Regions from separate parts of the Homo sapiens genome. Here all the other regions are linked to region 1. Evidence: fine-mapped QTL for protein levels in blood plasma. A gene starts in region 1. Each other region holds a variant in brackets. All regions are shown on one strand. Distances are between the middles of the regions. Region 1 holds the start of DPT (dermatopontin). Region 2 overlaps DPT (dermatopontin). Region 3 overlaps DPT (dermatopontin).

What was found. PIP is the chance, under the fine-mapping model, that this variant and not a neighbour inherited with it causes the effect. The UK Biobank Pharma Proteomics Project read protein levels with antibody pairs (Olink). The fine-mapping took linkage between variants from a reference panel, not from the people measured, so its PIPs are less certain.
Region 2: its variant is fine-mapped to the plasma level of the DPT protein (UK Biobank, PIP 0.98).
Region 3: its variant is fine-mapped to the plasma level of the DPT protein (UK Biobank, PIP above 0.99). The variant lies in the coding sequence of DPT. If it changes the protein, the assay may bind it differently, which can mimic a change of level.

Annotation. Positions count from the first base shown.
Region 1 is chr1:168,728,013-168,730,778 of GRCh38, reverse strand. DPT (dermatopontin) reads left to right here and starts at 1,573. Exons shown (of 4, transcript NM_001937.5): 1 at 1,573-1,909. The coding sequence starts at 1,605.
Region 2 is chr1:168,696,790-168,699,508 of GRCh38, reverse strand. The region is part of intron 3 of DPT (dermatopontin); the gene reads left to right. Among named protein-coding and RNA genes, the nearest start is that of DPT, 31 kb to the left of the region's middle. The variant G/A (reference allele first, on the strand shown) is at 1,321.
Region 3 is chr1:168,713,032-168,715,797 of GRCh38, reverse strand. DPT (dermatopontin) reads left to right here. Exons shown (of 4, transcript NM_001937.5): 2 at 1,452-1,577. Among named protein-coding and RNA genes, the nearest start is that of DPT, 15 kb to the left of the region's middle. The variant C/T (reference allele first, on the strand shown) is at 1,565.

The DNA of each region.
Region 1 (2,766 bases):
TAGCTGGGACTACAGGCGCCCGCCACTAAGCCTGGCTAATTTTTTGTATTTTTAGTAGAGGCGGGGTTTCACCATGTTAGCCAGGATGGTCTCGATCTCCTGACCTCGTGATCCGCCCGCCTCGGCCTCCTAAAGTGCTGGGATTACAAGCATGAGCCACCACACCCGGCCTCAGTAGTTTCTTTTAAAGTTAAACATACATTACCTTGTGAACCAGCAATCTCACTCCTAGGTATTGACCCAAATGAAATAAAAATTTGTTCACACAAAAACCTATACATAGATGTTTATATCAACTTTATAATTACATTTATGTAATTCATTATATAAAATATAATGAATATAAAATTCATTACATAAAAAGTAATGAATTTTCAAAAACTGGAAACAACCCAAATGTCTTTCAACTAGTAAATGTATAAACAATCTGTGGTACATCCATGCTATGGAATATTACTCAACAATAACAAGAAACAAAATACTAACACATACAATGAGATGTTGAATTTTAAAATGGATGAACCTTAAAAGCATTATGCTAAGTGAAAGATGGACATGAAAGGCTACGTGTGGTATGATTCCATTTACTTGACATTCTGGAAAAGGCAAAACCATAGAGACAGAAAGTAAATCAGTGGTTACCAATGGCTGGGTGTTTGGGAAGATTTGACTGCAAAGGGATATAAGGGGATGTTTTGGATTGATGGAACTGTTCTAAGTCTTGATTAGGGTGCTGGCTATGTTACTGTACATTATGTATTTTAAAAGGTGAATTAATTATATGTAAATTATAACTCAATGAAAAGAAAATTCAATGTGAGGGCAAAAATACTGAAGGATAAATAGGGGGTTTATTTAGATTAAACCCATTACATTTTGAGAGCAGAGCACACTTTCTAGACTTGACTGGGTCCAATTTCAGCAGCATGGTAGAATGCTTAAGTGTAGAAATCATATCCAACTTATCTCCCCATGGGCCCATAGTACTTCCTTATGCAACTTATGAGTTCTCAGAGTAGCCCTGCAAACTGGTATACCCGCGCTTATACTCAAGGGTTAAAAAGTGTTGGATTGACAACTTAAAAAAAAAAACAGGCATTCAGCCTTACAGAAATCCTAGATGGCTCTGTTACTTCAGTCTATGATTTCGGTATTTTGAAATCACTGTCTGGGTATTTGTGTGGCCCGGAAGGCTAGTTTGGAGAACAAATACAGGGGTTTGCTAGTAGCGGGTAGGGTAGGACAGAAAGGGGTGAGGTGCTGAAAGGTGAGGGACAAATATGCTACTAATCAGTGTTTTTCAAGTGAATATTTCTACAGGGTAGAGCAGCAGTTGGCTTTTATAATCTAGATACAAAGTTGTTCTTTCTCCAGGGAGCTTCTTAGACTTACATGCTGCTGGTATATTCCTAGAATTCCACCTTAAAACAAGCTGAATGTCCTTATGGCTGACATCTCAGCATGGAAAAGTTTTGCTTAAGCAATGACACACTGCAGTTGGATCCTTCTCACCCACATCTGGAAGCCACATGTCAGCGGCAGCTATATAAAACGGTCAGACCAGCAATCTTAGAGTGACATTGTTTGCCAAAATCCCAGGCAGCATGGACCTCAGTCTTCTCTGGGTACTTCTGCCCCTAGTCACCATGGCCTGGGGCCAGTATGGCGATTATGGATACCCATACCAGCAGTATCATGACTACAGCGATGATGGGTGGGTGAATTTGAACCGGCAAGGCTTCAGCTACCAGTGTCCCCAGGGGCAGGTGATAGTGGCCGTGAGGAGCATCTTCAGCAAGAAGGAAGGTTCTGACAGACAATGGAACTACGCCTGCATGCCCACGCCACAGAGCCTCGGGGAACCCACGGAGTGCTGGTGGGAGGAGATCAACAGGGCTGGCATGGAATGGTAAGGGCCAGTCCCTGCACTGCACTGGGGCTGGGAACATCTCTGCATATCCCTCCTCCTGGGGGCTGCTAGACTCTCAAGGAATATCAGTAACCAAAGCCTGGGCAAATCCCACCCCAAACCTCACCACTGCATGCTCTGGGTGGAGCAGGGCTGCTGCTGAGCGGACTACATGACAGGACAAAAACCTGGGATGGGGAGTGTCTGTGGGAGACAGACTCCTCTGTGGCTCTGTTCCTTCCAGAAGCTGTTCTACCTACTCTCAGTTTGGGCCAGGGGCTGGTGTAGGTCGGCGAGAAGCTTGCTTACCAGACTACCAAAAGATATGTACAGAAACTGAAAGTAATAAACTTTATAGAAATTAAAACTTTCTGTGCCATCGGAATGGCATTTTTCTTTTTTAGAAATTTATTTTTACCATTTTACAAAAGTACTGGCCCACAGTAGTTTGGGAACAAGAAAAATAAACAATTGATCTCTCAGCACGGAGGGTTTGAGAACTATTGATTTAGAGCAAGTGAATGGAAAAGAGGGGACAAGGACATTTAGGCAAAAGAAAGTGGAATTAAATAGCTGTCTACTGCCTTGATTAAATGTGCTCTCTCAATTATGAGTACTGAGGTCCTTCTCTCTGCCTGAATTTAAAGTGGGTTTTATTGCTGGAAAATAGTTTACTAAAGGGTTTTGGAGAGAGGTGCTGTCTTCCCCTGACTGCATTCTGCCTTAAGCAGTGGCATGGAATTTTTTCGAGCTTGTACTTTTTTGTGGGGTGTGATTGTCTCAGCTGGGTCTCAGCCCAGGTGCTTGGTCAGGAGCTCATCCTAGTAGGCACTGACTGCTAGGCTGATTATTTACAA
Region 2 (2,719 bases), 31 kb after region 1:
ACCACTCAGTTTGCACACATTACTTATTTTTACTTTAGATACACTTTAAACTAGCTTAGTTACCAATTTTCTAGAAGCAGCAAATTAGAAAGGGAAACGAGTATATACTACTTAGAATGAAACTCATTCCACCAATGAGAATAAATAGCTGGATGACATGATAACAAATATGCTTAAGAAAAATAAAGAAAATGAAAGGCTCAAGAACTCAAAGAACATGGGTTGTCATTTAGCAGGGCCATGCTCCCCAAAGTGCAAAACGAAATAACAGGGGTGCTCAATGCTCCAAATGATGACTTCAGCTCAACAAGAAAATTAGTTCTATGTTCCCTGTTTAAGAAAGCAGGAATTAATACAGTAAAGGAAGAGTGCCATCCAAGATTAGTATGAAATAAATATATCTGAGTAGTTAAAATGCTCAATTCAGTTTTCAGTAAATTCACTTTTTAGTAAATTTTTCGGTTATGTGGATTACCCAGAATCATGAAAAACTGAAATATTATGTCATTGCATTAATTTAAAATGAGTATCCTCCCCCCAAAATAAAATAAAATAAATATACTCATGCAACTTTGCTACTGTCATCAAAAATAAGTAGCTTAATGATCCACAACTTGGGTTTCTTCTCCTCTGCTGAAAGATGCTGAGGTCCCCAGCTTGGAGAACTATTGTCAGGGCAGGACTCCTTGTGCAAGAGCTTTCCCTCCACATGCAAATCATAGTGGTTTCCTCTTAGAATGCTGTTGTTCCATCTATGCGCTATTGACATCTAGGGCCAGATATTTCTTTGTTTCAGGGTCTGTCCTTTGCATTCTAGATGTTTAGTCTACCCACTAGATGCCATTAGCACCCCACCCTAACCAAAAGAAGTTGCAGACATTGCCAAGTATTCCCTTGGGGAGCAAATTTGCCCCCACTGTCCTGGTGTGAAATCAGAGACTGAACCTGGTGGAATCATTTGGTCTTCATAAGACCAAGTCTAAGTTTTGCTCAGCATCAATTAATAGCCTTCTAAAAGAGTAGTTTGAATGCCTGATCATAAGATCTTGTTTATCTGTGTTTGTTGCTACACAGATAAATAAGACCTGGCTGCAGTAATTACAGACATTTGGTAAACCCACAGGCCACCAATTTTCTAATTTCCTTCTAAAACAATCTATGACCTCTTTTGACAATTGCAGGAATCAAAATATCACCCAGGCCCTGGTATCACCCAGACCCTCAAGTTGATCACCCAGATTTGTGTTGAGGGACTCTATACCCAATTGTTCTAAACAAACGACCCGGAGCAACAGACTCAGAATTAGAAAGCCTGCCTTA[G/A]GCTGTTTGAGCAGAGTGAGCCCTGCTTCCTAGGACTAAGAGCAATCAGCCCCACTTTTCAGTTTAGAAGCTGGATGGAGGCCTTGTTAGTCATAGTGTTTAGGATAAATTGTTGAAAAGAGGGCTTGCAGATTGAAAAGGGAGATAGATAATTCTGAGTTTGTAAAGGACCCCACCAAGCTTTGGAATGATTTGCATAATTAAATATGGAAAAACTCTTCGTTTTTGCCCTTTATCAGGACTGTGCAAAGGGCATGGCAGCCACGTGTTCTTCTGGGCTTAAGATTACCTAGTTAGGCAGACTGTGTGGTTTAAGAGAAAGACCAAGATTTGAGTACAATAAACTGCGAATCTGAAATTGTCACCTATTACTTGTATTACCTTAAAGCAAGTTAATTATTTCTCTGAGCCTGGTTTTTCACCTAAACAATGAATCGTTGTGAGGATTAAAAGAGAAAACACGTAAAGCATCTGGTGCAATGCCAGATATATTAGAGGCTACAATTATCATTATCACTGTTCAACAGTATTAGACCACAGGAGTGTCATGCAATGTAGGCACTCAAAACATTTCTCTTAAATGGATGAATAAAGAACATAAATTCACCCTGAGCAAAGAACATTCCTTGAAATGTATCCACACCACATTTTTCAAAATTTAGTAATGCTATGTACACTCTTCCCATCCCCAACCACTTAAACACATAGGCAATTCATAACAATTCTTGTGATGCCAGAATGGCAGCCATTTTCTTTTTTAATTTAAGGGACTTTTTCATTCCTCTGTAGCAGTGTTTTCTGAAGGGAAACACATGTATAGCACAGAGCCCAGTGCATGGTGAGCACTCAGCATATGTTAAGTGCTCAGAAAGAGTCAGTGGGAAAATGGACGGACTTTTTAAAACAAGATTTTTTTCTTTTTTTTGAGACAGGGTTTCACTCTGTCACCCAGGCTGGAGTGCAGTGGCACCATCTCGGTTCACTGCAGCTTCAACCTCCCGGACTCCAGCAATCCTCCCACCTCAGCCTCCCAAGTAGCTGGGACTACAGGCATGCACCACCACACCCAGCTAATTTTTTGTATTTTTTTGTGGAGTCAGGGTTTCCACATATTGGCCAGACTGGTCTCAAACTCCTAGCCTCAAGCAATCCACCTGCCTCAGCCTCCCAAAATGCTAGGATTGCAGGTGTTAGCTACCAAGCCCAGCCTAAAACAAGATTCTTTACAATGAAATGGAGATGATGTTAAATAAATGCTTTTATTCCAAGCTGTTAACCCACAGGTCCTTGAGGTACTTTCTGGAGGCAGCAGGGGTGAGCTGACCACCAGTGATGAACAGAGGCCTCCACACAGCCAGTGACCTAATTAGTCACCTTCAAGGGTGACCTGAACTCACAG
Region 3 (2,766 bases), 15 kb after region 1:
TGTGAAAGAGCTCATGCTATAAGGTGGAAATCCACTGGATTTCATCAAAGGGCCATGGCTCACCATACCCATCTGGGCTTTGCATGCTGTGTGGGGGCAGAACAAATGATCATCCTTGTGCTCAATTTCCAGGGCTCTGCTGTTAAGCAGAAGAAATGTTTATTTGAAATTCGTCAATACATTGTGCTTCTCTTTGTCTTCTTTTTATTTTAAATTCCAGTAAAATGAATTATAATATCTTTTATTTTAAATGACATGCATAATACAATCTTGAATTTGTAAAATTCTAGATGTAAAATTCTAGATCCTGGATAAGTAGCAAGAACAGTGGAAATGCCCTGACTGTGTAGAGCTTATGGTCTTGTGGGTGGTGGAAAGATTCCTGGATAAGTAGCAAGAACAGTGGAAATCCACTGTGGTCAGGTAGAAAATAGTGTTATCATCACAGCAAAAAGTGGGAAGCCTGAAGACGCCATAGGAATTGGGCCCAGGAATGGGAGAAAATCATACTAGAGATGGAACAAAGGAAGAAATGATTGTACTATTCTAAGTCAATGTTTAGTTCAAAAGGTGCTGTGAAGACCAGCAGCAGCACAGGTAGAATGAAAGAGCAAAAATTATTTCTTGTCTGTGGACTGGAGTGGAGCGGTTATATATTTGAAGAATTAGGACTAAGCAGCTAGGACAGGAAAGGGATCTTTAGAGGGGGTTTGAGGCATTCAGTTGGCCTGTTGCAACTCTGTAAGGACTGCCTCCACAGCCAGGATTCTTGGTGGCCACCAGGAATAGAATTCTGAGAAAAACATGCCATGGCTGTGTAGAGCTTATGGTCTTGTGGGTGGTAGAAAGATTCCTGGATAAGTAGGAAGAATCTGGGTTGTGGTCCCAGCTTTCCTACTGGGCTGCCCTGGGCACATTCACCATGCCCATCTGGGCTTTGCATGCTGTGCAGGGGCAGAACGAATGATCATCCTTGTGCTCAATTTCCAGGGCTCTTCTCTTAGGCAGAAGAAATGTTTATTTGAAATTCATCAATACGTTGTGCTTCTCTTTGTCTTCTTTTTATTTTAAATTCCAGTAAAATGAATTATAATACCTTTTATTTTAAATGGCATGAATAATACAATCTCGAATTTGTAAAATTCTAGATGTAAAATTCTAGATCCACCCATTTATGCAGGCTTCCATCTAACAATATATATTGAAAGAGGTATGACAGGGGCAGTGTTCCCTAAATTTTGTTCAGTTAGAAAATTCTGAGTCACTTAAATTTTAATGGAGGGGCTATGTTATTTCTACAAATATAATAAAGACTATTATTTGCATAAAATGGAATAAATTGTTAAGAATCTAGGTCAGAGAAAGAGTGTGTAACTGTGGCAGTGGGGTCTTGGGAAGGGGTCTGTGTATGTGTCACTGTTCTTAGGTTCCTGGGGTTGTCTTCTCTTCAGGTACCAGACGTGCTCCAACAATGGGCTGGTGGCAGGATTCCAGAGCCGCTACTTCGAGTCAGTGCTGGATCGGGAGTGGCAGTTTTACTGTTGTCGCTACAGCAAGAGGTGCC[C/T]ATATTCCTGCTGGTGAGTCTGGCAGCCGACCAAACCCTCATGACTCCTGGGGTGGGAGAGGCACCTAGGAAGTGCTCTAGCTTCAGGTAAGCTTGAGGGTCACACACAAGCCTGGAAGGCAGCGCTGGCATATAGACAAGAATGAATGAATGACTTAGGAGGATGTTCCCGCCAAGAGGGATCTTTCAGGTTATCCAACCCCCCACATCCTTCTTTTGGCAGAAAAGGAAACAGAACCATAGAGCCGGCACTGACTGGCCCAAAGTCACCCACCTACTCTGTGGGAATGCCAAGTCTTAAGCTTAGGCCTAATGACTCCCATCCCAGTGCTGTTCTCCTTCTCCCCAACTTCTGGTAACTTCTCATCATATCCAAGGCTGCAGGGCCTATTTGGGAACCTAGTTTCCTGTAGTCTTTCTCTGGGAGAAACCAATCCTCTCATGGGTCAGAGTCTAGTACATAGTTATAGACAGAAAAAATAAAATATTAAAAAATTAAAAAATTAAAAAAAAAGATTGTGCTGTTTTCTGGATCCATTTGGAATTCCAGCCTCTGATGTTTTGTTTCTTTCCCTATCCCTGGGCTCATGCCGAATATCTCCTGACCTAGCCTTCCAATTGACTAGGAGAATGTGTATATTGTCATTTGCCCTGATGACTTACACTGGGTGTTGATAACACAACCGGCCCAGGTTTTTTTAATCTGAAAATGAGCCAGGCATTTCTGCCTTGGGCAAGGGGATCCAGAAGTGTCAACATGTGAAGGTTGGCTCCCTCAAGTGATTGATCTCTCTACAGTTTGATGCTTGCAAGGACAGCTTCACAGGTCATGCTTATTCTCTGCAATCAGACAGCTTACTCCACAGATGCCCAGTGGCACACAGTATCTCTAGGGATACAAAGCCCCAAAAGCTTAACGTTTTTCTTTTTAAAGTAAGGACCGATAGTAAATTCAGAGCTCAAAGTCACCTGTCACTGTATGATGGAGCAGAAACCTCCTCTAGTTCTTCAAAATCGCTTCCATAAAGCAGCTTTTACTCCTCTACAGTGGGTGAACAGGCCTGGCAAAGGATTACGATGCCACTGGGATAGGTCCTGAACCAAAGACCTAAAGATCTCTTGCAGTGGAGGAGGTAGAAGGAGCACCAGTTTGGGCAAAAAGAAACTTGAGTTTCAGTCTCTGTGTTGGCCTTTCCTCACTT